Linked DNA regions of Homo sapiens. The protein of the gene in region 2 purifies or fractionates together with the protein of the main gene of each other region. This does not show direct contact. Each region holds a gene or a part of one and is shown on either strand. Other genes may lie near its edges.

Evidence for each region.
Region 1: the proteins of ALDH8A1 (region 2) and NPEPL1 fractionate together in Homo sapiens (co-fractionation; one large-scale study listed by BioGRID). This does not show direct contact.
Region 3: the proteins of ALDH8A1 (region 2) and ESD fractionate together in Homo sapiens (co-fractionation; one large-scale study listed by BioGRID). This does not show direct contact.
Region 4: the proteins of ALDH8A1 (region 2) and SMC4 purify together in Homo sapiens (affinity purification with mass spectrometry, with the first as the bait; one large-scale study listed by BioGRID). This does not show direct contact.
Region 5: the proteins of ALDH8A1 (region 2) and DPP3 fractionate together in Homo sapiens (co-fractionation; one large-scale study listed by BioGRID). This does not show direct contact.

The regions. Positions count from the first base shown.
Region 1 is NC_000020.11:58,711,740-58,718,130, forward strand, and holds the end of NPEPL1 (probable aminopeptidase NPEPL1), read left to right. Parts: intron 1-739; coding exon 740-840; intron 841-1,680; coding exon 1,681-1,804; intron 1,805-2,177; coding exon 2,178-2,354; intron 2,355-2,820; coding exon 2,821-2,931; intron 2,932-3,428; coding exon 3,429-3,587; 3' UTR 3,588-4,105; downstream 4,106-6,391. Other genes in the region: uncharacterized protein LOC124904942, read left to right, coding at 5,856-6,256, 6,341-6,391. UniProt on the Homo sapiens protein: Probably catalyzes the removal of unsubstituted N-terminal amino acids from various peptides.
Region 2 is NC_000006.12:134,938,311-134,944,928, forward strand, and holds part of ALDH8A1 (2-aminomuconic semialdehyde dehydrogenase), read right to left. Parts: intron 5,657-6,618; coding exon 5,509-5,656; intron 4,255-5,508; coding exon 4,099-4,254; intron 1,106-4,098; coding exon 956-1,105; intron 1-955. UniProt on the Homo sapiens protein: Catalyzes the NAD-dependent oxidation of 2-aminomuconic semialdehyde of the kynurenine metabolic pathway in L-tryptophan degradation.
Region 3 is NC_000013.11:46,793,169-46,800,573, forward strand, and holds the start of ESD (S-formylglutathione hydrolase), read right to left. Parts: upstream 3,994-7,405; 5' UTR 3,937-3,993; intron 277-3,936; 5' UTR 229-276; intron 1-228.
Region 4 is NC_000003.12:160,406,150-160,409,649, reverse strand, and holds part of SMC4 (structural maintenance of chromosomes protein 4), read right to left. Parts: intron 1-3,500. UniProt on the Homo sapiens protein: Central component of the condensin complex, a complex required for conversion of interphase chromatin into mitotic-like condense chromosomes.
Region 5 is NC_000011.10:66,504,267-66,510,246, reverse strand, and holds the end of DPP3 (dipeptidyl peptidase 3), read right to left. Parts: intron 5,636-5,980; coding exon 5,473-5,635; intron 1,169-5,472; coding exon 996-1,168; 3' UTR 590-995; downstream 1-589. UniProt on the Homo sapiens protein: Cleaves and degrades bioactive peptides, including angiotensin, Leu-enkephalin and Met-enkephalin. Also cleaves Arg-Arg-beta-naphthylamide (in vitro).

The DNA.
Region 1 (6,391 bases), on a different chromosome or scaffold from region 2:
GCTCTGCACCCGTGGTGGAAGAGTCGGCTGTTCCAGGAGATGAGAAAGACGCTGGATCCTATAGAGCTGTGTGTCCGCGCTCTCGAGGCATGCTCCATGCTAGGAGGATGTATTCTGGTTAAAGATTCGTCTGCGGGAGCAGAGGAAGGGCAGGGACAGGGGTCTGGGAGCTCTACTCCATTTGACATTGCTGCCCGGGTGTGGCCCGCTTCGGGGTCAGGGGGCACCCTTAGAACCTGTGCAGGGCAGGAACTGCCACCATCTGTTGGCCACACATTTCTCAGTGAACAAATGACTTTTGGCATCAGAAAGCCATAACTTCACACCTAAACTTCCACGAGGCTGAGCTCTTCCTGCCCCTCTGTGTGTGTACGTGTGTGTGTGTGTGTATTGAGGGGACGCGGCTGCTGGCCACCTTCTGTCGGCACAGGTTGGCGAGGCTTCATGACTGCCCAGCCCATGCAGTCCAAGAGTCCCACAGCCCAGCCCATGCCCAGGCTCATCCACTGCGGCGGGTGGCCTCTGCCAGGGGAGGCTAGGAAACCCCAGTGGTGAGCCTTGGCCTTGGGATCTGCCAGGACTGTACCCGGGATGGCAGGGAGGGCGAGCTTTGGTCCCTGCAACTTGGAGCCATCTCTCTCTCTCCTGCTGTCTGTGGGTCTGAGAACCCCCAGCTCGTCCTCCCCCCTCCCCAAACCTATGACCTACAACTGGAGCCTCTGCCCACTTCTCCCTCCAGGGTTTCAAAGACAACCTCCACGCTGTGTTCTGCTTGGCTGAGAACTCGGTGGGGCCCAATGCGACAAGGCCAGATGACATCCACCTGCTGTACTCAGGGAAGTACGTCTGGCCCTCCCACTCCTTCCTGCCCACTGTTGGAACTCGCGACCCTTCCCGGCCTGCAATGCCAGCTCACTCCAGGCATATCGGGAGGGCACTCAGCGTTGGGGTCCCCTGGGCAGCAGGCTCCTTGCTTCCCGGAGGGCTGGGGAGCTTTGGTAGCAGGCGCACCTCACGTTGAGGGGCCCATGGCACCTGGATGAGGTGCTAGGCTCCCGTGCAGTGCCTGGCCCAGGAGCTCGTGGTCTACCCTGCATTACCAGGACAGGTCTTTCCAAAATTTAGGCCTGAAATCTTTGGGTGTGTGAAGCTCTGACCCCCAGATTCCCTGCTCGGGGACACCTCCTGCATCTCCCCCTTGAGATTGACCCTGGAAAGTCAAAGCTGAGCTGGCAGCTGAGGAGCAAGTGGCTCCAGAATTCAAAAGAGAAGAGCCCTCTCCCCAGCCCCATGAGCTGGTGCCTGAGTGGGCGCCTCCCCGCATCTCCTGCTCTTCCTCCCCATCTGCCGGGTGCCAGGCACAGTGTGCTGAAGGCCAGCCCAGCCGGTTCATGCCACCCACTTTACAGAAGAAGAAACTGAGGCATGGGAGAGCCAAATGGCTGGTCTCTGGCTCTCCAGAGCAGCGGGGCAGGGATGTCACCTGGAAGCCCTTTGCTCCAGGCACTGCATTGCTGTAGGGACTGGGGGCATCCCGGCCTTCCCATTCAGGGAACGTGTTGGGGTTCGGGGAGCCACAGGGATGGGCAGCTCCAAATGGGGTCTCCCCAGTTTCAAAGGGGCTCATGCCAGTGTCCCAGGAAATCCCGTCCCTGAGCGGGGATCTCTACCATGCCCCAGGACGGTGGAAATCAACAACACGGATGCCGAGGGCAGGCTGGTGCTGGCAGATGGCGTGTCCTATGCTTGCAAGGACCTGGGGGCCGACATCATCCTGGACATGGCCACCCTGACCGGGGCTCAGGTGAGTGCTCCCTGGATCCACCCCTTAGCTGTAGTCCCAGGGAACCCCACCCCACTCTTGACCTCAAGGTGGGGAAGGCAGCGCGTGGGGGCTGCCGTCAGGAAGTTTTCATAACTGGGCACGAGGAGGCAGGAGGAGCTGCCCGTCAAGCTTGGTGTGGGCAGTACCGAGGCCCAGGCTGGATGCAGAGCCGGGAACCGCCTCCTGTGTGCTTCATGGCCATGGTCCTTTCTGCCTGTGTTTTTTCTTTTTTTCTCAACCGTCTCTTTTCTGGCTCCCTTATTTCTCTGTCTGCCTCCCGGTCCCTCTTTTGCCTTGGGTGTTTCTCTCCTGCCGTCCCGTCCACACGCTTCCCGGGTTCCTGCCCGCCCAGGGCATTGCCACAGGGAAGTACCACGCCGCGGTGCTCACCAACAGCGCTGAGTGGGAGGCCGCCTGTGTGAAGGCGGGCAGGAAGTGTGGGGACCTGGTGCACCCGCTGGTCTACTGCCCCGAGCTGCACTTCAGCGAGTTCACCTCAGCTGTGGCGGACATGAAGAACTCAGTGGCGGTAGGTTTGGAGCCTCGAACCTGGAGCCTGCCACATGGGTGGAGCCGGGCAGGCGGAGCCCTGCCTTCAGGGTGCTGGTGCACCCAGGGAGCTGGGGCCCCCCAGAAGCAGCCACAGTGCAGACGAGGGCTTGAGAGGCAGGCGTCAGGGCACAGGAGTCATCCCAGACAGCGTGGGCCACTCACTGGCTTCCCTGCCACACAGCCAAGGGTTTCTCCCCCAGTCTTGGGTCTGGCTCAGTTGCCCCATCAGGCCCTTTGCTGGCTTCCCCCTTGGCCTATGGTGGGGGCAGACTCCTTAGCTCATGGTCAAGGCCCTCCCAGCCCAGCTTCTGCTGCCTCCCCACACGCTCCCTCCCAGCCACCCCGAGCTCCTTGCAGACAGCAATAGTGACAGGCGATGGGGCAGGGTGGAGAGGGCCCGGCCGGAGCAACCCACAGGCACTGTGTCCTCCTGGCCTCCCTAGGACCGAGACAACAGCCCCAGCTCCTGTGCTGGCCTCTTCATCGCCTCACACATCGGCTTCGACTGGCCCGGAGTCTGGGTCCACCTGGACATTGCTGCACCGGTGCATGCTGTGAGTGTCTCCCCTCCCCACTGGCCCTGGCTGCTCCCGCCCGCTTGTCCAAACAGCGCCCCTCTGGCTCTGGAGCTGCTGGCAGAGCTCATCAGAAACTTCTGTCTGTGACCCAGCTTCCAGCCCGCTGTCCCCACCACCCCCAGGTCTCATCCTCCCTGGGAACAGAGTGGCTGCTGTGTGCGACCCTTCCCCAGCCAGCCTGTCCTCCATAGGGGATCCTGGGCCCTGTCTCACCCATCCCCACCCTGAGGAGCTCCCGGGGTGAAGGCAGAGCACACAGGGCCTTGCCCCCTGCCTACGCCTGGCCTGCCAGCCCTGAACGTGTCCAGCCAGCAGCATGGAAGGCTCTGGGCTCCGGCTGGTGCTCAGGATCTCCTTCCTGAGAAGGGGACTGTGGGGCACGTGGAGGGGACCCAGGAGGTGAGGGGTCCCCAGGAACCCCTCCTGTGCTGCAGCCCCACGCCCAGAGTCTGTGTCCTGCCCTTTGCTTGCAGGGTGAGCGAGCCACAGGCTTCGGTGTGGCCCTCCTGCTGGCGCTCTTCGGCCGTGCCTCTGAGGACCCTCTGCTGAACCTGGTGTCCCCACTGGGCTGTGAGGTGGATGTCGAGGAGGGGGACCTGGGGAGGGACTCCAAGAGACGCAGGCTTGTGTGAGCCTCCTGCCTCGGCCCTGACAAACGGGGATCTTTTACCTCACTTTGCACTGATTAATTTTAAGCAATTGAAAGATTGCCCTTCATATGGGTTTTGGTTTGTCTTTCTGGTCGTCAGCGTGGTGGTGGAAACAGCTGAAGTTTTAGGAGACAGCTTAGGGTTTGGTGCGGGCCACGGGGAGGGGACCGGGAAGCGCTGGGGCTTGTTTCTGTTTGTTACTTACAGGACTGAGACATCTTCTGTAAACTGCTACCCCTGGGGCCTTCTGCACCCCGGGGTGAGGCCTCCTGCCTGCCTGGTGCCCTGTCCCAGCCCCAGGTCCTGTGCAGGGCACCTGCGTGGCTGACAGCCAGGCTCTTACTCCAGCCGGGGCTGCCAGCGCATCCAGCCAGCCCAGCCCTGTGAAAGATGGAGCTGACTTGCTGCAGGGGACCTGATTTATAGGGCAAGAGAAGTCACACTCCGGCCTCTCAGAATTCACTTGAGGTTCAATTAAATACAGTCACACCGCCCCCTCACCTGGCCTCGTTCTTCTTTCTCCCCCTCCATTTTAGAAACGGGTCCTGGAGCCCATCTAGGGAATGTAGTGCAGGGCTGCCTCCTGCTTCTCCCAGACCGGCTCTGGCTTTGAGCCCCAGCTGGTCAACCCAGTGTTGATGACAGGAGCCCAGGACCTGGGGAGGACAGGGGGCCGCTGGGCCTAGGCCTGGCCTTCCTGACCATTTTGATTTTCTGGGTGCACACAGCACAGACTCCAGGTGGAAGTGCTGTGGGCTCCTGAACTCTCTACAGCCCGGCAGCCTGCACGGAGGCCGTTCTGTCTCTCGAGGGTCCTGGAGCCTGCGCTGTGTGAGGTCGACTGTGCTTCCGTGCCCCTGGGCACTGTCCTAGGTGATAAAGGGCAGGGCCCCGAAGCCAATTCGGATCTCCCGGGAGCCCCGCCAGGATTCAGGGAACCCCTGAACCTGGGCTCCAGGAAAAGCAGGTGAGGCGGGTCCAAGGCACCCAGGAGCCAGGCTCCCACTGGCTTGGGTGACAGTACAGGCCAGGACCTTGTCCCTGCCATACATCCCCTTTGCTGTCAGTCGCAGCAGGGCTGCCTGGGGCCCCCCAGGAAGGGATTGGGTCTGAGGCCCCACAGGGAAGGGGACAGTGCCCACCTCTCTTCAGCTAGGGCCGAGGGTGAGGACCTGGCTGCAGATCTGTGGGACACGTGGCCCTAGGCTGTGTCCTGAGCCCCTGGCCACCCCACCCCAAGGGTCCCCAGAATCCATGTGCCCCCACAGCCCTGGAAATCAAGGTGACTTTCTGGGCCTGATCGCAAGCAAATATTTATTAACTGCCTGCTGTGTACACAGCCCCGGCTGGGCCTGAAAAGGCAAGAACTGGCTCCAAGGTCCTGGCCCTGTCTGAGGAAACTGTCACCCAACACAATGACAGCAATTGTGGGCAGCAGCCGGGGAGACGGAGCCGGAGCTCCTGAGCAGGGGCGGCTGCAGCCGGGGTTAGGAGCCTTCACGGGTCATTAGCTTGCTTAATGGTGCTGCAGTAGGCCCCGCTTGCCGGCCTCCCCTGAGACACCCAGAAGAGGCAGAGGTCCTGAGGTGGCTGGCTCCTTCTCCAGGGCAGCTGGCACCGTCTGCTCCTGCTACCAGGGGTGCGCCCGCATGGACACAGGATGCAGGGTCAGGGAGCAGGGGAGGAACTGAGTCTCCCTTGTGCAGGCACAAAGGCGGCCTCAGGACCAGGGACCCAGCTGGGCACCAGCTGCTGGCTGGCCTGGCCTGCCTGCCGGCGTCGGGGGGCCCACGGGGGTGAGCCAGAGGCCTGGCTTTCCCTGGGGCCAAAGGGCTCTAGGAGGCAACGGCTGCTTCCCCAGGCCCCACCAGAGCCCTGGCAACAGGGTCATGGGGCGGCTGGCGGTGCTGGGGGGCAGGTGGGTGCTCTGGGTCCACTTGATCATGGTTTCCGGGGAGCAGTGCAGGAAGACGAGCTTGGTGCAGAGCCCCCACAGGCAGGCTAGCGCACAGCCCCAAGGAAGTGCTCCCAGATGAACTTGGCCGAGAGCATCACCATGGCCACGCCAAGTAGGCGGGGCTAGGACCCCACCCACACCCCCTCCCTGGAATCCCAGGGCCCACCTGGGTGATGTTATCCCAGAGACAGGGACAAGAGATGAGAGGATGGAAATGTCTCTGGGAAAAAGGCTGCAGGAGCTGGAGGTGATGAGCAGAGCAGGCGAAGGAAAGGGAGGCCCCTCCTCCCTCCATGTTAGAGAAGGGAGCCCTAGATCTGGCCACCAGCGGCCTGTGCACACCTGGGGCTGAGGGCACACAGGGCTGCACATACACACTCAAGGCCACTGTGAGAACAGGTGAGCAGGGCCAGAGGGCTATGGAAAGCCCGGCTGAAGGCTGCACCTCCAGGCTGAAGAGAGCTTTACCGGCATCCGCCAGGAAGCCTGGGCTCTGGGGCTGTGTCATTGTAGATGACCATTTCCAGGTCGTGGCCACAGCCCCGGTTCTGGTCACAGCTGGGCCACCAATCCTCCTGCGCCACCCACCACTTAGCCATCGGGCCGTCTTCAGGGCATCGGCCGGCCTCAGCTGCTGCAGCCAGACCCTGGCGTTGCGGAAGGCTGGCCAGTCCACATCCTGCAGCCTACGAGGGTGCGCTGTGTGAGGGGTACAGGCCCCGGCCTGGGAGAGGACCCAGATGCAGGCCCCCAGAACTGATGGAAAATCTCTCCCCAGAGGTCAGGTCTTTGTCAGCAAAGGTGGGAAACCAGGGGAGCGGCGGCACCA
Region 2 (6,618 bases):
AACAGTGCCAGCCTGTGCCTGTGCGGAGCTACAGCCCAGAACAAAACCAGGAGCGCATCCTGAATGCGGCCAATAAACTATTAGCAGAAAAAGAACAAGGAGCAAACGTGTGAACCTTGATATGCTAGGAAGAGGCCATATTGTATTAGCTTTCCAGTAGCAGTCCCAAAGGCAGGAAAAACTGAAGGATGTATATTTAGATCTCTTGAAATCGGGCTACTTCTACTAGGTATTCTATAGCCAAGCAAACTGTAGGTGTACCTAGCAATATTCTTATTGTCATCAGGATTAACTTGTGATTCAAGATTTTATTTTATTATTATTATTATTATTTTATTTTTTAATTTATTTTTTTGAGACGGAGTCTCACTCTGTCGCCCAGGCTGGAGTGCAGTGGTGCAATCTCGGCTCACTGCAAGCTCCGCCTCCTGGGTTCATGCCATTCTCCTGCCTCAGTCTCCCAAGTAGCTGGGACTACAGGCGCCCGCCACCACGCCCAGCTAATTTTTTGTATTTTTAGTAGAGACGGGGTTTCATCGTATTAGCCAGGATGGTCTCGATCTCCTGACCTCGTGATCCACCCACCTCAGCCTCCCAAAGTGCTGGGATTACAGGCGTGAACCACCACACCTGGCCCCAACTTAAGATTTTAATTGACTCTCTGGAGCAGGCAGGTGTCTTTGATTTGATGGGGCTGTTTAAGTCTGCGTCACTATTGTGCTGCCAGTCGCCCACCCTGGGGAGTGGAACTTGCCTGCAGTAGCACCGTTCTGGTGTTGAAGACAGGAAGCAGGGTGAGGGAACCCTGTGGGTGGAGGGGATTTCCCAGACAAGGATCAGAAAGACAAAGCCCATGATGTCACTGGAATCGATTGTGCTGCTGAGTGGAAGATTTCTATAAACTATAGGTTTGCTCCAACTCTGTGCCTGCCCCCCAACCCCAACACCTAATTACCTGCTTTATCCAGGAGTTTGCACAACATCCACGCAGTCACTGAAGTCAGCTCACTGGGCTTGGCTATCACAGTGTTCCCTGCAGCCATCGCTGGAGCTATCTTCCAGGTCAGCAAGTAGAGTGGCAAATTCCAGGGGCTGATCAGACCAGCTAAGGGATGAGAGCAGAAGCACTGCCTGTGACGGCATACCCCTCTGAGGTGGACTGGCCAAGTGGGGTTATTAACGCAAAACTCCTTCATGCTGCAGAAAACTTAGCTTACTCTTCTAACTTCTTCCCAAGCTTTGCTTATTTGTAGCCACTTTCAGGGAAATAATTCTAAAATATATTCCAAGCAACTGTATCTTTTAAAACAGAGTAAAGTCAATATGATTTCCCCATTTCTTGGCAGTTCATGATTATGAACAACAGCAATATAAACTCCAGAGCTAAAGAGTTGTCACCTATCATATACCCAAAGAAATATAAATCATTCTATTATAAAGATACATGCACGCGTATGTTCATTGCAGCACTTTGCTATTCACAATAGCAATAGCAAAGACATGGAATCAACTCAAATGCTCATCAATAATGGATTGGATAAGAATATGTGGTACATATACACAATGGAATACAATGCAGCCATAAAAAGGAACGAGATCATGTCCTTTGCAGGCACATGGATGAAGGTGGAAGCCATTATCCTTAGCAAAGTAACACAGAAACAGAAAACCAAACACCTGCATGTTCTCACTTATAAGTGGGAGCTGAACAATGAGAACACATGGACACAGGGAAAGGAACAACACACAGCAGGCCCTGTCAGGGGAGAGTCGGGGGGAAGAGCATTAGGATAAAGAGCAAATGCATGCTGGGCTTAATAGCTAGGTGATGGGTTGATAGGTGCAGCAAACCACCATGGCACACGTTTACCTATGTAACAAACCTGCACGTCCTGCACGTGTACCCTGGAACTTCAAAAAAAAATAAAAAATAAAAAAACAGTTGTCACCTGTCACTAAACAGTTCCAGAATGTGACGCATTTTGAGATTTATAGACTGAGCTTTACTTTTTCAAAAATGTCTCCTTCCCCATTATTTTAACGGTCTGGCTGTTATTTCTTCTAACATGTTTCTTTACCTTTACTTCAAATCTGTCATGGGTTGAGACATAAAATCTCAAGCTTTATATAATTATTCATAAAATAGGGGCCAATGAGTTCTGAGTGTTCCATGTGAGGGCCCTCCTATCAGTAAAGCCAATAACCTTTGGTGCATGGACTGTGACATCCATTTTGGCTATTTAGAATATTTTTAAATAAAAATTCTCTCTAGATTGTCACTTGTATCCTGACCAGATAGATTTGCTGGATGAGTAACGTAACCAGCAGCTAGAATGTGTCTCCATGCAATATTCTGAACCTATCCAGGTTTCCAATCACAAAACAAACAAATATAAAAATCTACCTTCTGAAAGGAAATTGATTCACCTTATTTTATACTCTTCCCTCAAGCCTGTGCTATGAAAGTAAATGCATCTTTTATATTATTAAATTTCCCACTGAAAAATCCATTCTTTAGGGGATAAAAATATTTTTGCAGCAAAATATATTAGCACACTTCCTAGGAGGAGGTAGAGCTTTCCACAATGCCTTGAAAACATAATTTCTGAAGGTTTCAAGTAACCAAAGCAATGAGATGTCCCAATTGTTTTCCTTTTAGCTTATATTCATAAAATGTAATAAGCTAAAAAGATGATTTTTTTCTCCGAGGAAACAGTGACATCTGGTGGAAGGTTTTAGTCATCACAGACATTTATTTATACGTTCTTCCAAAGGTCAAGAGGCAAAGGAATGCATGAAGTAAGATAATTCTCAGTAGAGGCTTATTTATCACACACCTGGCACCATACTACATGCCCTACACTTATTAATTTATTTAATGTACATAAATAGTTCTTTCTTTTTTTTTTCTTTTGAGACAGAGTCTCGATCTATCACCCAGGCTGGAGTGCAGTGGCACCATCTCAGCTCACTGCAACCTCCGACTCCCAGGTTCAAGTGATTCTCCTGCCTCAGCCTCCCAAGTAGCTGGGACTACAGATGCATGCCACCACGCCCGGCTGGGTTTTTTTGTTTTGTTTTGTTTTGTTTTTTTGAGACCGAGTCTCACTCTTGTCGCCCAGGCTGGAGTGCAATGGCACAATCTCAGCTCACTGCAACCTCGGCCTCCTGGGTTCAAGCAATTCTCCCTGCCTCAGCCTCCCAAGTAGCTGGGATTACAAGTGCCCGCCACCACATCCAGCTAACTTTTTGTATTTTTAGTAGAGATGGGGTTTCGCCATGTTGGCCAGGCTGGTCTCGAACTCCTGACCTCAGGCGATCCGCCAATCTTGGCCTCCCAAAGTGCTGGTATTACAGGCATGAGCCACCGCGCCCGGTGAATTTTTGTATTTTTAGTAGAGACGGGGTTTCACCATGGTGGCCAGGCTGATCGAATTCCTGACCTCAGATGATCCTTCTGCCTCAGCCTCTCAAAGTGCTGGGATTACAGGCGTGAGCCACTGCGCCCAGCCTGATTTTTCCTTTTTTAAATATAAGTAGAAAAAAAAATCCTGGCATGTGAATTTACATATTTACTCTTAGCATCATTCTTTTCCCTATGATTTTCCAGATAAGTCATGAACATGAGGCCTGGCGTGGTGGCTCACGCCTGTAATCCCAGCACTTGGGGAGGCCGAGGCGGGAGGATAACTTGAGGTCAGGAGTTTGAGATCAGCCTGGCCAACATGGGTGAAACCCTGTTTCTACTAAAAACACAAAAATTAGCCGGTGTGGTAGCTCGCACCTGTGGTCCCAGGTACTCAGGAGGCTGAGACTAGAGAATCACTAGAATCCGGGAAGCAGAGGTTGCAGTGAGCCGAGATCATGCCACTGCACTCCAGCCTGGGCGACAGAGCAAGACGCTGTCTAAAAAGAAAAGCAGGGAATTTGACACAAAGAAAATAAACTAGAAATAGATCTTTGAGGCCAATGGATTTTAGAAAAGAAAAATATCAGCTCTTCCTTTTCTTTAACCTGTTCCTTGAGGACAATGCCATAGAATGTTGTGAGCATCTGCAAGCATAACCGGGAGGTGGGCTCTCACTGAACAGCACTCACCGACTCCCACCGGGGCCCGCACCGTGTAGTGCATGCAGCCCAGGTGGTCCATCTGCGTGCACTCTGACGTGTGGTGCAGGCTGGAGGAAGCGAAGAACCTGAAGTTCTGCACAGACCGGGGAATGTCCATGGTTCTTGCCAGTGCTAAGGTTTTCCCTGTAAGAAGCAAACAACATAAAGCACTATCAGCTAATGGGGACACTCTATCCATCAGCTTCCACTGCCCACGCGTCCCAACTCACACTGAAACAGCCTGGATTCCTTCTAGCCCGGGGCAGGCATTCCTTGACCTCACAAAGACTTGATCATGGTTTGATAAAACCATACAATATTTAGGTATAAGGTTGGAAACTGAGGTGGGGGGTTAAAATTGAGTCAATAATCTTTGTTCTGTGAACTGAACACATCATTCTCATCACCAGTTTGCCAGATGCTACCACTTCACCCACACAAACTCTTGCAATTCAAAATCACCAGGCTTTGTACCTGCGACAAAGGCATTGAAATACGGGTGTTAGGACAGTTGTAATTGCACAGCACAAAACGAAACACTTTTATACACATGTAATGTGTATTTCATGACCTCCCCACACATGGTAGAGTCATCAGAAGAGCGGCTGGGAATGCCCTGGCACGGGATGCTGTGTGGCACCTGCTTGCCCATCACATGCCCTGCACGTCCTAGCTCCTGGATGGAACAGAAAGAGAAACAGAAGCTTACCTAGACTGCTACTGAGTTCTCTTTAGCGATGCAGGGAGCCTGGCCAGGAACACCAGCAGAGAACTATTTTCTTTTTAAGGGCTTGGACTCAGGCTGCTTTCTGATTTTTGATTGGTTTATGGCACACATGTAATTTTTAAAACTCTTGGCTTATCTTAACAGATATTCTTGCAAAAATTTACAAATATTTACTCCATTACTCTGACCTCTGGGAAAGAGTGGGAAAAAAAAATGAGATGTGTCGGGAGTGGAATGGTGACTGACATATCAGAAAACATCCTAAATAATCTGACTGCATAACTGCTTTTCAAATTATCTTTGCTTTGAAATTCTCTGCTTAGAATGAGTAGGAGACTGCATGATCAGCCCTAGTTCTTCATCTCTCCCTATATCCATGCCCTTTGCTGTATATATTTGCACTTCCTTTCATCCAATGAACAGAGTATATTTCTTTGCCCCTCAGCTTTTGGATCCAGCCATGTGACTTTCTCTGGCCATCTGAATGAGACAGGGCTGGGCCAGCCACAAGTCCTGGCCTTCCCAGGCCTGGAGCAGGGGAGGGTTTGCTCTCCACTTCTACTATTGCCAGAGGAGCAGGCACATGGGCTGGCCTGATGGCCCCAAGAGGGATAACATGAATAATCAGAGATGCCCTGAGTCCCATGTTACAGTTAAGAGGCAACTCTCACCTTGGTCTTTAGACTCGGCCTGGGCAAACTCCTCCAGGGACTGCTCCAGCAAATCCGCCACCTGGTTCAGGACCCGTGAGCGCTCCTGGGGGCTGCGGGATGACCAGCTGGGAAAGGCTTCTCTGGCGGCCTTGACCGCGGCTTCGATCTTTGAGGAGCAAATGGGAGAAAGGGTCACCTTAAAGCTGTTAGTCCTTGGGGGATGGACAAAACCAGAATCCTCAGGTCTCCACACACCTCATTTTTGTTTTGTTTTGTTTTGTTTTTTAGATGGATTCTCACTCTGTAGCCCAGCCTGGAGGGCAGTGGCGCAATTTTGGCTCACTGCAACCTCTGCCTCCGGGGTTCAAGTGATTCTCCCACCTCAGCCTCCTGAGCAGCTGGGATTACAGGCATGTGCCACCATGCCCAGCTAATTTTTGTATTTTTTAGTAGAAAGGGGGTTTCACCATGCTGACCAGGCCGGTCTTGAGTTCCTGAATACAAGTGAACCACTCGCCTCGGCCTCCCAAAGTGCTGGGATTACAGGTGTGAGCCACTGCACCTGGCCCACCCTAATTTTGAATATTCAACATGTCCCAGTGCTGAGCCACCCACAAAGTAGATGACACAGGTGTTTACATGACCAGCAAAGGAGGGGTACCATAGAAACAAAGAAACGCGCTCCATTTCAACCAATGCATCCTGAATGTAGTAATCAGATCATTAGAAAGAAGCTATTTGAATTTTAACATATGTACATTTTCAATCACTTCAGAAACTAGAATTTTTAAAAATATTGTGGGCCAGGAGTGGTGGCTCATGCCTGTAATCTTAGCACTTAGGGAGGCTGGGTTGGGAGGATCGCTTGAGCCCAGGAGTTTGAGACCAGCCTGGTCAACATAGTGAGACCCTGTCTCTACACAAAGGTTTTTTAAAAAATTAGTTGGGCGTTGTGGTGCATGCCTGTAGTCCCAGCTACTCAGGAGGCTAAGGTGGGAGGATTACTTGAGCCCAGGAGGTAGAAGCTGTAGTGAGCTGTAATTGTGCCACTGCACTCCAGCCTAGGTGACAGAGTAAGACCCTGTCTCAAAAAAATGTATATGTTATACATATATACTATATATATAT
Region 3 (7,405 bases), on a different chromosome or scaffold from region 2:
TTTAATTACAAATCAAAAAAATATGTTAGGCTTAACAAGAAATATGACATAAACTAAGAACTAGATATGACATACTGTGATATACTATGATATCTGATACATTATAATAGGTGGTTATATTTTTCAATAGAATTTTTCTATGTGAAAAATAGCACGTTTTAAAACAAGCTATTAGTGGTATTTTCATTCAATGTTCAGAGTAACATATAAACAATAAAACAAGTTTACCTGTCCAATTGCTGATTGCTTTTTGCTTGCACCAAATGGTAGGCGATTCTGAAAAAAACACCAATGGTTTACAAATGGGATATACTTTTCACAGCAAAGGTTATACAGAGCTTTTATATGCATATGCATTCTCAATAGAGATGTTTTCTTCTTTTGAGGTAAATGACTGTACACCCTGATGGGATACCACATCACCACTTAATTACCTTAATTGCCCATAATCTAATTATTTGCCACAGGCCACCTTAATACCTATTTTGCCATAAAGCTTGTTGGTACTTGGTCAAAACCATCTGCTGAAGTAAAAGTACTATGAAAGTTTTTTATCTTTTTAAATCAATAAACAAAGTTTTCAAGTGTAATTTCGAAGCATGAGATGTAGTCAACTCCTGAGTGAAGAAAATAAGAGTGGGGACTAGGTAAGTAGAGGAAGATGGATCTATCTGGCTCAGTTGTAAGTCGAACTTGTAACATGGGGAGAAAGAAGGGAAGAGATGAGGACTGAAGGACTACTACTAGGGTGACTAGAAAGGATGTATAAGAAAAGTGGGCTTATGAACGATGAAGTGACTGATATTCAGTAAGAAAAATATATATGGAAACTTACATAGTATATATCATGTCACTTATCTGGTAGATTTCATTTAGGCTCTAGAACAAATATATATTTAGGTTCTAGAACAGATTTTGTGGGAGAAATAGGGTGACAGAGTAGGGTGGAATACCAAAAAACCAAACAACACCCTTCCTCCTTCCCCTCCAAAAAACAACAACAACAACAACAACAACAAAAACAGAAAAACAATTTCACAGTGCCAGTGGGAGTTACACAATTTTTCCCAAATGTTAGTGAACATCAACATTCTTTGGAGAAGAAAGGGTCTCTCAGTGCATAATACATCCATTCCCCTAAAGGTCAAACCTTACTGTTCTTCCCTTTATTTTTTATTTTTTGGAGATGGGGTCTTGGCTGTGTGGCCCAGGTTGTAGTACAGTTGCATAATCATGACTCAGTGTAACCTAGAACTCCAAGCTTCAAGTGTTCTCCTACCTCAGCCTCCTGAGCAGCTAGGACTACAGGTGCGTACCACACTGGAATATTTTTTTTTTTAATTTTTTGTAGAGACAGGGCCCTTTACTTATTAAAGTTAAATGTCATCCACCTCCAGAAATCTGAGTTCTATTTTTATCCTTCTTCCCCTGTGTCTCAAGTTTTCCATAAATCTCTACATGTGTTTTTTTGTTCCCATTCTCTCAGATTCCTTGGATTTTGATGTTTCTTCATTTCCAGGATGTCCTATTCCACTGGCTCTTAACAACCTAGACAGGTGTTCCCAAAACCAACAATCTACAGTTCCAATAACTGCTGTTGACCACCACTGTGTTGTTCAAATCCTCTTCTCAGTGAAAACTCAGGATCTGGCTTCTTCCCTTTCACTCTGTCTCCTCCCACCTCCCTTTTCTTTTTTCTTCACACTCTTTCCCTAAACCTCATTCCCTAAATTTCAACTACATTTTCTGGGTGAAATAATCTAAATCTGCATCTCTATAACCAATCTTTCTCAAGCATTAGTACCCATAATGACATTTCTTGCTGGACTCTTCTACCAAGACATGTCACCAGCTATTAAAACTTACCACACCTAAAATTAAGCTTCTGCATCTCACCTTCAAACCATTCCTCTTTTCATTGCCTCTCTTTTTCAGACTCATGCCTGTCTTGCCTAATCTACATTTGAGATGCCTCAAAGTTACCTTCTTTTTGAATTCCCACTGCCATCATCCTAATTATATATAAGAAATTAAAACTTAGCCTCTTCCTTTCTTCCTAATACATCCCACTACGATCAATCCTGCATGAAAGCCTAGGGTTTTAATCCACTTAATTTACTGGTCAACGGATCCCTACCAACAGCTCATCTGCAGCCTAATACGGCCTACGTGGAATTGTTAGTCATTTTTATTTAGTATTTTAAAAACTGTGATAAAAACACATACATAATATTTACTATCTTAACCATTCCTAAGTGTGTATTTCAGTAGTGTTAAGTATCCATTAGTCATATGTAAAAACGCAGTTCGCCAGCTCACAATAATGAGCAGATGAGAACTGCCTCATCACCCCCTGGCTGCTGCAGGTGGAGACTACTAATCCCTTTCGCTGTTAGGCCAGTCGCTGAGAACCAGAAAGTCACTGAAATGGAAGACCATGTTAATTGTACAATTTTCTTCAAGTTTAATGCCATTAAAATTTCATAAAATTAAAACCATGCAGGATCACTGAAAAAATAGATGAATAAAACTCCATATAAACTTCAGTCACACTCTACCTGTGTGCAAACACAGTCTTTTTTTTCTTCTTTTTTTTTTTTTTGAGACAGGGTCAAACTCTGTGGCCCAGATTGGAGTGCAGTGGCCTGATCTCGGCTCACTGCAATCATCTCGGCCCCCGGGCTCAGGTGATCCTCCCGCCTCAGCCTCTGGAGTAGTTGGGACCACAGGTGGCACCACCATGCCCAGGTAATTTTTTGTAGAGGAGGTTTTGCCATGCTGCCTAGGCTGGGTCTCTTTTCCTTCATAAAAATTCACATGGCTTGCCTAGGTAAGGATTTCTATTAAACTCTGGGGAAAATTTTTTAAAAAAAATATAGCATCTATAAACGCCAAACACCTTCACATGGCTCTAAATATGGTCTATAATTTGGTCCCAGATTATTTTTCTGGTCTCACTCCCTATTTTGTTAGTTAAACTCAACTATGCATAATTCTAGGATGGCCTGGATGTTGCTATCGGGTGGCTTTACTCAATGCCACGGTACAATGGTTTCAGAGCAGGTTTTGGGGCCAGACCCTCCGGGTTCAAACCCTGACTTCACCACTTATTACTACATGACACTGGGCAAGCTAATCTATGCCTCATTTGCCCATCTGCAAAATGGGTATACAGTAATATATATCAATTTGATAGGGTTGCTCTGGGAATTAAATGAGTTAATTCACGTAGTGCTTAAAATGCTGCTTCTACCACACACACAAACATGAGCTATTATTTTTCCTGCAACCTGAATGCCCTCTCCTTCCAGGTGCGCTCAATCCCATTTCCCTAATGACCCCATCAGAAATGACTTCCAGTCCCCCACAGCGCTCTGAGAGCATTTTACGACCCGAACAGATTTTGTCAAACTCCAAAGACACGTGCTCCCCTCGGCACCATCAGGTGAGTGCTCCTGACCGCGCCATTGGCTCGTGCCCCGACGCGGACGCTGCCTAGAGCAGCAGGTCCACACTCCCCCGAACCAGGCGCCGGCGGCCGCTAGTAACGCGTTGAGGCCAGCTCCCTCCTTAAAATGCGTACACATCTACTTCACATTTTCGCGCGGTGGCTGCGGGTCTAGGAAAGTCTTTCTGAACAGGAAAAAGCTGTACAAATGTAGCGGGCAGTAGGTAAACGGGCGCTCGCCCCGGGTTACACTAGGTTGGAGGCTCAGAGAAGGAAAAGGGATTAGAGGCGAGGCTCCGGGTCACGGGAAAAGGTCCTTGGCCTCCTGTCATGGATGGTGGCGCCCAAGGCCCAGGGTCGCCGTCTCTGCGCTCGTGCCTGCGGATACCTGCACCGCAGGACTCGGCGTCCGCCCCGATCACGCCTAGCCGTGCCGCAGCCGCAGGAAGGCTGACAACGTCCAGGCCTCTACCCGAACCCAGTCTTACCTACGGTGGCGGAGTGACCAGAAGAAGCGGGCCGAAGTAAAAGGCGGGGCTCAAGATGGCCGCCGGGGCCTCGCCTCAGCCCCGCCCATATGATGCCCCGCCCCTCCGGTCCCACTCACTCTCGCTTTTAACTCCGAGAACCCGCTCTTCTCCAGTTCAGTCTCCATGGCCCCGCCGCCTTTGCACATTGCACTTCCCGGCAGCCTCCGCGTGGGCGCCCCCTCCAACTCCTGCCTTCGCCCGCGTTTCTGCTCTGTGTGGTTACTAGGACCAACGAGGAGGGCGTTAGGTTAGTCCCTGTCACCTTGTCGGGGATCAGTCTGCTGTGCGTGCTCAGACTCTTCCCAGAGCCAGCAGCAAGAACCCGAGGCATTAATAAACTTGAGATGTAGCTTCGCTTAACTCGTGCAGAGGGTTTCCGTGTCACTTATGTAGAAACTAGGGCCTAATTTCAACTCCCTCAACTCCTCTGTCCCAAGACTATCCACGTCACCTACTTGGTAGCTTGAGTTAAACAAGAAACCTTTGAAATCTCCAGTGGCCGACACGCAGTGGGAACTCCATCAGTTTTCTGTTTTCTCCCTTCTTCCCTCAATAAAAATTAAGTTGAACTGACTAAGATTTGCTAGTTGATAATTTACAGCAAATCTTTCCTTTTGGTCTCTCTGATTTAAGCAAACTGTTGAGTGTACTTTGCCTCTTGAGAAATTAAATCTGATTACAACAGAGCTAAGTATTTTTCAGCAACGGTTAGACTGACATTGTAAATACACAATCTGATAGTTGGGGCTGGCCTCATGGGCCTGCAACCTGTGCTATTACCCGGCCCCCAGAACAGAAGGACGCTACATTTTCTCTCAGTAAGTGTTGAACCAGGGCCCCACGTTTGTGTCTGGAATTGGGCCCTGCAAATTGTGTAGCTATGGGAGCTGACTTAAGTATGGATGAGCTGCCACACAAGAGATTACCTGCCAGAATCTATTGTGTGGCTCAGGCCCATTTTGCCATAGTGATCTTTGGACTAAATTAACCTGTGGACTGAACCTGTGGATCAATTGGAACTTAGACTGAAAATAATGTTTCATCAAAATAATGTTTTTATTTTGAGAAAGCATTGAAGTAAATTGTTTTAAACTTTCTTTTTACTATCTTTAAGTATAAATCATTGAAAAGGGGATTTTCTTCAGTTTCAAAACTGAAACAGAATAAATACCTAAATTGCAAGTTCTTTATAACTGATGTTTGAACAAAGAGAAATAATTGATTAAATGATATATTTGCCTAATAAGTGGACTGCTGTGAGGTGCAGACTAGCCAAAGAACTGTAAGTGTGAAGTTCTTTACTAAAGGGTTCTTGTGTGAATACAATGTGAGAATAAGCAGAACTAAAATTTCTTTTACCCAGCATAAATAAAATGTTAATAGATCCACAAAAGTCGATTGCTTAAAAATATTAAGAATATATATAATTATCATTATTATTTGGACATGGAAGCAAAGAAGGCTGAAATCAGAAATTAAGGTTGACATTTTAAAAAATGGCACTACCAATAAAAATGGATGAATATTAAGTACACAAAGAAATAGTCCAAAAATTATGTGTAAATGTGTGGCTGAGAGGATATAGGACTCTTGGTTTGAACTAAAATGAGTAGGAATATAATCTTAAGGAGGCAATAAAGGGATGCAATAAAAATGAGAAAAAGTCAAATATACTTGAAGCCTGTAAGAAAAGAGATTGTTTTAGTCAGTTCCAGCTTAACAGAAATTTATTCCTCACCATTCTAAAAGTCTGGGAAGTCCAAGATCAAGGTGCTGATGAAATCTGTTCCTGCTGAGAGCCCTTTTCCTCGTTTGCAGAGGAATACCTTCTTGCTGTAGTCTCACTTGGTGGGTGGGGTGAGGAGAGCTCTGGTTCCTTCATCTTATTGTAAGGGCACTAGTCCCATTCACATGGACTCCACCATCATGGTGTAATTATCTTCCAAAGTCTCCATCTCCAAATACCATCACGTTAAGGATTTAGGGTTCAATGTTTGAATTCTGGGGAACACAAACATTCAATCCATAGCAAAGATAGTTTTAGAGAGACTAGAAAAGACACCATACATAGAAAATAATATAATCTCTTGGGTATCAAATATGCTACTTGAGAAGTGTCCTTGTGGCTTTTCCACAGACTAGAACAGGGTTTCTCAACCTCGGCACTGTTGACATTTGGGGCCAGATGATTCTTTGTCGTGGAGGCCTACCCTGTGCATTGTAGGATGTTTCGTAACATCCCTGGCCTCCACTAGCTAGATGCCAGTGGTACCCCTAACAAGCTTAGATACCCAAAACGTCTCTAGACATTGCCAAATGTCCATGGAAGGAGGGGTTGGTGTAGAGGAGGGCTGCAAAATTGCCCCTAGTTAAGAACCACTGGCCTAGATAAACATTTTTCAAAATTCCCTTTATTTTGATTCTATTCTTATCTAGTGACATTTTGGAAAATAATAGGCTCCATTGTTATTTAATAAATCAGAACTTAGGTTAAAAATGCTTTAGTCTCTGGTGAGTGTAGCTGAGATGATACATTTTCCCAAAGACTTACCATCTCTGAGCATGATACTCACCTTACAGAATTGAGTTTCTGAATGTGTACTCTGAGGACCAGACTTTGGATCATGGGAACTGAACCAAGTACCGGAAACTTATAGCCCTGTGCCACTGTTCCATCTTGACTTTGTTATCTTAAGTTCTAACTGCAGAGTACAATACAACAAGTACAGACAAGCCTTTCAGTCTCACATTCATATTAGCAAATGTCCAAATTTCACATATTTCAATTTTATTTATTTATTTATTTAAGATAGGGTCTTACTCTGTCACCCAGGCTGGAGTGCAATGGCGCAATCATAGTTCATTACAACCTCAAACTCCTGGGCTCAAGTGATCCTACTGCCTCAGCCTCCTGAGTAGCTGGCACTACAGGCGTGTGCTAGCATGCCCAGCTAATTTTTGTATTTTTAGTAGAAATGGGATCTTGCTATGTTGCCCAGGCTGGTCTTGAACTCTTGAGCTCAAGTGATCCTCCCACTTCAGCCTCCCAAAGTGCTGGGATTATAGGCATGAGCCGTTGCACCCAGCTGCATCTGGCCTCAATTCCATTTACTTTTTTTTTTTAATTCTTAAATCCTAAAAGCTATATTTCTTTTTCATCACACATTCAAAAAAATCAAGAGTTAGTGTGTGATTGTACAGAGCTAGACTTTTGTGTTAGCCATTATTGTTATTTTTGTTAGCATGAGAACTAAAACTATAGATTTTTTCCTGTTCAAAGTGACTCCTATTCTTTTATCACCTTTTGCTCAATTACAGTACTGTTAAGTTTCTTAACATTCTACATATTTGTTGAGCCACAGTTTGTCAGTTTATTCATAATTTTTAAAGTTCCATTGATAGCTTATTAGAAACAAAATGAACTCTG
Region 4 (3,500 bases), on a different chromosome or scaffold from region 2:
AGAACTTACATTTGAGTCAAATGGCCATAATGTATTATTTAAGTATACATTTTTCAGATAGCTAAAAGTTGGGATTCAGTGTTTAACAGTTTACGCTGACAAAAATATTCCTTAAAAACATTGTATTTCTCCTGGCAAATTACTTACTGAAGAGATAGAGTACAGCTATTAAGAAACAGCTTAGCTTTGGGTAAATAACAATGGTTGCTCATTTTTGGTTGTTTGTTCCTCTCTCTCCAAATAAAATGAAAGATACAGCTATGATTTCCTCTAATAGAGTTGAGCATTTTTTTTTTTAAAGGCAGGATATTTACAAAGCAAAATAGTTACATCTCAACTCCTGTATAACATTCAGTCTTTTTTTTTTTTTTTTTTTTTTTTTTTGAGACGGAGTTTCGCTCTGTCGCCCAGGCTGGAGTGCAGTGGCGCGATCTCGACTCACTGCAAGCTCCGCCTCCCGGGTTCACGCCATTCTCCTGCCTCAGCCTCCTGTGTAGCTGGGACTACAGGCACGCGCCACCATGCCCGGCTAATTTTTGTATTTTTTAGTAGAGACGGGGTTTCACCGTGTTAGCCAGGATGGTCTCGATCTCCTGACCTCGTGATCCGCCCGTCTGGGCCTCCCAAAGTGCTGGGATTACAGCAGTCTTAAGATTATTATACCGTATTGCTTTTTTTTAAACCAGTTACCATATTATCAGATTAGCATTATTGAATCAACAGGCTATTAACAGGCCTTTACTTGTCCTTTGACTATTAAGACTACTGTGGTATTACAATGACAACCTGGGACTTTTCTTGTTGCTCTGTTCTTTGATGTCCTTTGCCTGCCCTACCACTTGCTACCATTTCCTTTCTTCCTTCTTTTTCCATTTGTGCCATCTCCTATGTAATCTGTAGATTGACAGTCTGTGCCTAAAGGATTCCTCCTTATTTCTTCAGAAAACTTACATAACTCATGTAAAATTACAGAATATAGTTTTAATTTAGGGCAATAAGCTCAATATATTTCAGAAATAATTTTAAAACATCAACCTGAATTTAAAGTCATATCAAGGTTCAATCCAAGTCACAAATAGTGACTGGCACAATCACAGACAAAAAATGTTTCAAGTCGCTACAACACTATTATCTGATGCTGACAAAGTTTCATATGTTCCCAGTGTTATCTCTATTTCTTGTATCTTAAAGCATATGAAACAAGGTCTTAAATGATTTTTCCCACCACTGTTATCTTAAGTTATGGAACACTTTCTTGAGTGGCAAACAAGGATATTATGATCCAGTTATACCACTCTTTGAGAATCAATTTACTGAAATACAGCTTAGAAATCTAAGAGGAATGAATAGGTATGATGCCCTTTATCCTTATTCAAATGTAATCCAAATTTTAGCAAGCATCAACTACAGAAAACTCAAACAGTACATAGCTATAACAAAGTTTTGTTGTCCTAGTAAGGCCTCAATTATTCTTCTCTTTATTTTTACTTGTAATTACTATGAAGGAGGGTTTCAGTGATTCTTACAGCAAATATGAGTGTTTGCATAAAAATTAAATGGCCTAAAATTACTGAGGTTTAAGTTTTTATCTTGATCATCTTTTTATTTTCTATATCTTTTATTATACTATACTATAAATTAGTGTTCTTTATCTTCCTCCAATACATTTTACTCTAATTTGATCTTTGTAAGCTACCAGAGGCCAAGGAACTAAACCACCAAGGTTAGTATCTTTCTAAAATAAAACAGAAAGAGTAACTTGTTAGTAGCTGGACTTCTTGATATCTATTTCTGGTTGGTTAGAGGTAGCTTCCTTGCTGCTCTCCACCACCTTCACCCTAGTTGTGGATATTGAATCAGACACCTTTGGAAAACTGAGGCATTACTGAAAAAACTAAAAATTTCTTTTGATATTATAGCATAGGCTCATTTCTACAGACTAAGAGACTAGAACCCAAGTAGTTTATGTGACAAGCTTAAGAGAAGTACATTGGAAAAAAGAACAGATGGCTAGGCAACAACTCAGACCTAGGTTAATTAAATCTCCAAATTACAAAATAATTAAAAAAAAAAAAAAGAACTTGGCTATTATTTATTTATTTAGAGACAAGGTCTGTCACCCAGGCTGGAGTGCAGTGGTACGATGTTGGCTCACTGCAACCTCTGCCTCCTGGGTTTAAGCAGTCCTCCCACCTCAGCCTCCTGAGTAGGTGGGACTATAGGGGTGTGTCACCATGCCCAGCTAATTTTTGTATTTTCTATAGAGACATAGTTTCACCATGTTGCCTAGGCTGGTCTCCAACTCCTGGGCTCAAGTGATCTGCCTGCCTCAGCCTTCCAAAGTGCTGGGATTATAGGCGTGAGCTAATGCACCCAGCCTGGTTCGTGTTTCAAACTTTAGATTTTGTAATATGAAGACAAAAGCATATGAAGTTGAAAACTTTGACAAAATTAAAGTTGTGCTAATAGTTGTAGCTTTTGAGGAGTTTACAAAAATATTCCTGAGGCAGCAATCATTAATACAACTTTTTAGTAAAAACATTAACCATTCTTCTACCCCTGAATGGAGCAAAAGCACCCCTAATTTATAAGTCATAGTTACCCAAGAAATGTTATACAGAGCTAATAAAACTCTACTTGTACAGACTTACAACGGGACCGAGGCTCCCAAAGTAGGTATATATAAAAGAAAATGTACGATTATAAAAAACACAATGGTCAATCACAACAAACTTTTTGAAGGCATGTATGTGTCTTTAAGGACAAGAAATAAGGTTTAGCCATCTTAATATTACTTACAGCATTTTAGCATAGTGCCTTAATAGGAATTCAATTGAATGGCCAATTAATGAAATTTTTAATGGATTTAAGTAATAAAAATGCCTACTTGAAAAATTTGCTAAGCGAATATATTAACACTGAAAAATTTTACTCTTAGGAACTTCTAAAAAATTTGGTTCTTTTTAATCTCAAAAATAAATGTTTATTTTTACTAAATTTAGATTACTTTTGCTGTTAATCACTATTACTGGCCAAATAGTCTACATGTTTTATTCCAAGTAATGATTTAGGTCTTGGATGTTGATACTACGATGCTGTTTCCAATTTCTCAGCCTCCCAAATCAGTTTTTAAGATAGATGTTATTCAGTAGGAGAGAAGGTAATAAAAATCACATTTTTACTTACCATCAAATGCTTTAAATTGCCAGTTAGGAGTCTGAGATTTTCATAAGCGACTTAAAAAAAACAATCCATAGAAACCATTGTCACTTTCCCTCAAAGTTTTAATTGGGCACTATTAGTTCTACCGTAGTCCAATCCCTGTTTCTTATTCCTAACAAGTGAGTTCCTAAGGTCCTTATCTATAAATTTAATTGAGTCAAACTGAATCTGTTAACTTGGAACATTCACCTTTGTATTATTTGGGAAGAAATGTTTTTTAAACAATTGTAAAGATCACATAAAAAGGTTCAGATTATCATGTGAACAAATTGGCTTTA
Region 5 (5,980 bases), on a different chromosome or scaffold from region 2:
GGTTATGGGACAAATGCAGAGGATTCTGACTGAAGTTGAGTTTGTAGGTTCCCAGAACTTTTTTTTTTTTTTTTTTTTTTTGAGACGTAGTCTCGCTCTGTCGCTTGCGCTGGAGCGCAGTAGCGCGATTTCGGCTCACCGCAACCTCCGCCTCCCGGGTTCCAGGGATTCTCCTGCCTCAGCCTCCCGAGTAGCTGGGATTACAGGCGCATGCCACCATGCCCAGCTACTTTATTTTTTAGTAGAGACGAGGTTTCACCATATTGGCCAAGCCGGTCTCGAACTCCTGACCTCGTGATCCCCTCGCCTCGGCCTCCCAAAGTGCTGGGATTACAGGCATGAGCCACCGTGCCCGGCCCCAGAACATTTAAAAATGCAAGGAATGCCACAAAGGAGAGCTGCAAAAATTGTGCTATGTTCAGCTCTGTGACTGCGTATCCTCATCTAGAGATAATGTCAACATCCTGTTGTGGAAGGGAGGCTAAAAATGGCCCTCCTTGCCCCCTCCCCAGGCCTTGAGCCCATCACTCTGCTGGGAGTAAATGAGAAGACAGGCAAAGGCAAGGAGGAGCCACACACGCCGCAAAGATGGTGGTTGTCTCTAATATTTATTTGTCTGGTTATAAAATTAATATGTGAGGAGCATTGGATTTGGTGAGAACGTTTTGAACCCTAGCTGTCACGTGCCACCTGCGGGATCTAGACCAGTGACTTCTCAGAACTGCCATTTCCTCATCTGGTAGACAGGATGGTAAGCCCTGTCTTGCTCACTCCACGTATGGCAGTGCAGATGAAATGAGATCACAGAGGGGAAGCAATTGGCAGGCTGGAAAGTGCTGACAAATGGAAGGGGTTGTGTCACCACCCTCAGCTGAGGTAGTACCAAGGTCCAAGCTCCTGCCCCTCCCCCTCCCCAGCCCCTAAATACACACACGAATGGAGGGCCACTTGCAGCCTTGGTCTGATGGAATTGGGGGCAAGGCCACACATCTTCCTCAAGCTTGGCCAGATGGGGCCTCACTGGGGCCCTTCCAGAATCGGGCATCGGCTGTGGCCAGCTGTGTGAGGATCTCCTCCAACTCGGGTCCATCCTCTGGGAAACGCTCAGAGAAGGATCGGATGAGGCCAGCAGCTGACGCCTCGTATTCCAGAAGCTGCACGTCTGAGCCTGGGGAGGAGATGGAGAGAAAACAGCAGGGAAAGGTCTGAATAGGGAAACTGAATCATCATAAAAATCTTAATAATCACAATTACAGCAGCAGCTGTTTCTTACTGAGCTCTGCCAAAAAAACCTGTGCTCTACGTTTTAGGTTAATTACTTAATTTACTCTTTACAGTAACCCTGTGAGGAAGGAAATACTACAGGGGGAGTATTAAATGCATTGCTGCTTTCGTTCATTCAGTCAATCAAATAAAGATTTAGGCTGGGCATGGTGGCTCATGCCTGTAATCCTAGCACCTTGGTAGGCTGAGGTGGGAGGATCACCTGAGGTCAGGAGTTTGAGACCAGCTTGGCCAACATGATGAAACACTGTTTATACTAAACATACAAAAAAATTAGCTGGGCGTGGTGGCATGAGCCTGTAGTCCCAGCTACTCGGGAGGCTGAGGCTGGAGAATTGCTTGAACCCGGGTGGCAGAGGTTGCGGTGAGCAGAGATCGTGCCACTGCACTCCAGCCTGGGTGACAGTGAGATTCCACCTCAAAATAAATAAATAAATAAATAAATAATAAAAGACACCAGGTGCCACACTAGGTGAAACAGATACAGTCCTTGGTGTCCTGAAGCTCACAATTCAGCAACGACTTCATCTGTCTACTGTGGGACCTGGGGCAAGTGTTGCAACCTCCCAAGCTTCAGTCTCCTCATCTGTAAAGGAGCTGCAGTGATGACATAGTCACACATCGAGGGGGTGCTCAACAAATGCTAGCCACCATGGCATCATTATCTCCGAACCTGTTTACTGATTTATTAAATGGGCTGTTCTGAGGGTCCCCTGAATACCCCCGGGAAGCACTGCCCTCAAACACACTTCAACTGCTCTACCCTCTCTGTGCACCTTGTCGTGTTCCATGACATCACAAGCTGCACAGCAGCAAAGAGCACAAGCTCTGGAGTTCAAGTTCTGGCTCTGCCACCCAACAGCTTTGTGACCGCAGGCAAATACACAGCCCCTCTGTGCCTCATTTTCCAGATGAAAAATGAGGATAATAACCATTTCTCTCTGGGTTGTTAGGAGTTAAGCCATAGAAAGCTTTTACAGCGACCTGGCTGGGTGTGGTGGCTCACACCTGTAATGCCAGCACTTTGGGAGGCTGAGGCGGGTGGATCACTTGAGGTCAGGAGTTCGAGATTAGCCTGGCCAACATGGTGAAACCCCATCTCTACTAAAAATACAAAATTAGCTGGGCATGGTGGTGGGTGCCTCTAATCCCAGCTTTTTGGGAGGCTGAGGCCGGAGAATCATTTGACTCCGGAGGTGGAGGTTGCAGTGAGCCGAGATCTCACCACTGCCTGCGGGACAGAGTGAGACTCCACCTCAAAAAAAAAAAAAAAAACTTTTTACAGTGCACCACCATCACAACCTTTGAAAATCCAACCTGTTCTTCAGATCTAGTGGGAACCACCCCTTCCTCCCCAGAACGTTCCCGGATACTCTTGAAGATGGATGCGATCTTCCCTCCTCTAAGTGTTCAGAGTTCTGTTTATATGTTTTGGCCACTCATTAACACTTCCCTTGTATGATTATGATGATGATTATTATTATTATTTTTTTTTTTAGATGGAGTCTCGCTCTGTCACCCAGGCTGGAGTGCAGTGACGCAATCTTGGCTCACTGCAAGCTCCGCCTCCCGGGTTCAGGTCATTCTCCTGCCTCAGTCTCCTGAGTAGCTGGGACTACAGGCGCCTGCAACCATGCCTGGCTAATTTTTTGTATTTTTAGTAGAGACGGGGTTTCACCGTGTTAGCCAGGACGGTCTCGATCTCCTGACCTTGTGATCCACCTGCCTCAGCCTCCCAAAGTGCTGGGATTACAGGTGTGAGTCACCGCGCCCGGCCCCCTTGTATGATTATTTATCTCCATATCTTATCATCCCCAGTGAGCTGTGATCACCTCCGGATCCCTAGTGGCTCCCCCATGGCTCGCACAGGGCTGGACATATCAAAGCAATTGAGAGTATTGTCCATGTGGCTGGCATGATTTATTAATGCACTCATTTGACAGTCACTGAGCAACTCCAGTGTGCCAGGCTGTGCATGAGGCACTGGGGTATGCTGCTCCTCCCATCATGAGAAGTGACCACCAAGAAAATGGGCAAGCGTGATGGGCGCTAGAAGAAAATGAAACTGGGTAGCAGAACAGAGAGGGACCGAAGCAGTTACTTTAGGTGGAGGGGTCAGAGACAACCTCTCTCACAGGGTGCCGTTTTACAAGGAGCGGAAGGACAAAAAGAACCAGACAGGCAAAGATCTGGAGGAAGATCATGCCAAGCAGCAAGAACAGCTTATTCAAAGGCTGTAGGAGTGGACCCAGCTCAGTGGGTAGAAGAAACAGAAAGGTCGGGAGACTGGAGTACAGTGAGCCAGAGAAGGGGTGGTGAGGCTGGCAAGGGTTGGGGCCAAATCCCAGGAAGCCTCTGGAGAGCATGGAAAAGCATCTAGAATGAGCGTCTTAATAAATGCTTTTTCCGGCTGGGCATGGTGGCTCACGCCTGTAATCCCAGCACTTTGGGAGGCCGAGGAGGGTGGATCACCTGAGGTCAGGAGTTCGAGACCAGCCTGGCCAACATGGCAAAACCCTGTCTCTACTAAAAATACAAAAATTAGCCGGGCATGGCGGCACGCGCCTGTAATCCCAGCTACTCAGGAAGCTGAGGCAGGAGAATCGCTTGAACCCGGGAGGCAGAGATTGCAGTGGGCCAAGATCGAGCCACTGCACTCCAGCCTGGGCAACAAGAGGGAAACTCCGTCTCAGAAATAAATAAAATAAAATAGCCGGGTATGGTGGCTCACGCCTGTAATCCCAGCACTTTGGGAGGCTGAGGTGGGTAGATCACTTGAGGTCAGGAGTTCGAGACCAGCCTAGCCAACATAGTAAAACCCCGTCTCTACTAAAAAAAATACAAAAATTAGCTGGGTGTGGTGGCGGGCGCCTGTTATACCAGCTACTCGGGAGACTGGGGCAGGAGAATCGCTTGAACCCAGAGGCGGAGGTTGCAATGAGCCGAGATTGTGTCACTACACTCCAGCCTAGGCGACAGAGTGAGACTCCGTCTCAAAAAAAACAAAAACAAAAACAAAAACAAAACCAACCCAAAAACCAAATAAATAAATGCTTTTTCCTCACCAATAATAGGTAGTGACTTTTTGCAAATATTATTCTATGTAACCCTCACAACTGCCCAGGACAATGCTTTTTTTTTTTTTTTTTTTTTAAAGAGTTGAGGTCTTGCTCTGTAGCATTGAACTCCTGGGCTCAAGCAATCCTCCTACCTCACTCTTTCAAGTAGCTGGGACTATAGGCAGGGGCCACCATGCCTGACTCAACCACTCTTAATTTGACTCTTGGCTCCTCCACTAAAAAGCCATAAGCCTTGTGCAAATTACTCTCTGTGCCTCAGTTTCCTTACCTGTAAAATGGGGATAACAACAATACCTACCTTATTGGGCTACTGCAAGGATTTAAAAGGTTAATCCCCAGAAAGCACTTAGAAACTCTAAGAAGGAATTCAGGTTCACGATAACATCAGCAAGCAGTCCACACTGCCTTTATGAATGAAGACACCAAAGTCTAGAAATGTCAGGTGACTAGGCCAAAGTCACAGGGTGGTTCTGAAGCTGGTGCTCTAACCTCTCCATAACACACATCATCTTAGGTATCTCAAGTGACAAGTAGCAGGAAAGATGAGTCAAGGGGTGAGAGGAAAGTGAAGGCAGTAAGGGGCTGGAACCCCAGGGGGTCTGAATACGAAAGATACAAGCACCGTGTGGCCAAGGCTCTGGAATTGTCGCTTGAGAAGGAAGCGGGATGATGCAGCTGTTGATCACCATCCTGGATGTGACCGAGTCCACTGTCCCCTGGGTTTCACTAGGCTTGCTGGATCCCAGCTCCCTCCTCACCTGACCCCCAGCCTGGGTACCCAACAGGTCTAATTCTTTGGTATGAACGCCTGGCTTCCCCCTAAGTCTGCATGTTCTGCTATCCCCTGCTCTGGTGGTCTTCTTCAAATCTTCTGTCACTGTCTTACAACTTGCATGACTGTGTGTGTGTCGGGGGGGTGGTGGGTGGTGACAGATACCAAGATAAGGGCCTGAGGTTTGGCATGGGAAGGACCTTGGCAGAAAGGGAAGGGCCATCCCAGGCTGGGTTAGGTTCTTATTGAGCCCTGGGATGGGTTCTTACTGCTTCCCAGAGGGCCCTGTGTGGTGCTCATCAAGGGAGCTCAAGAGCTCCCTCATTACCTCATTACCTTCAAGGCGAGTGTTGGGCTGAACAATGAGCTTCCGAGATTCCTTACGCAGCAGCACCGTGTCCCTGAGGGTGAGGAAGCACTCGGGGGGCGCATCAGTGACTGTTGCATACCCCTCGTACAGGGCCCGCCCTCCGGCCACATCCCCTGTGGACTTCAGCACCTGTGAGAAGGATGGAGTAAATGTCTAGGATGGGCAGTTACCCGGTGTCCACAGGGCTCTGCCATAGGCCACAGCTGATTGTGGTCAGCCCTGGACAGTCTGTGCTATGGTTTGAATGTGTCCCCTCCAAAATTCTGGTGTTGAAACTTATGGTTAAGTTTCAACTTAACCATTAAGGCTCCTTCCTCTTGAATGGGATTAAGGCCCTTATAAAAGAGGCTTCAGGCTGGGTGTGGTGGCTCACACCTGTAATCTTAGTACCTTGGGAGGAGGAGGCAGGGGATCACTTGAGCCCAGGAGTTTGAGACCAGCCTGGACAATATGGCAAGACCATATCTCTATGGA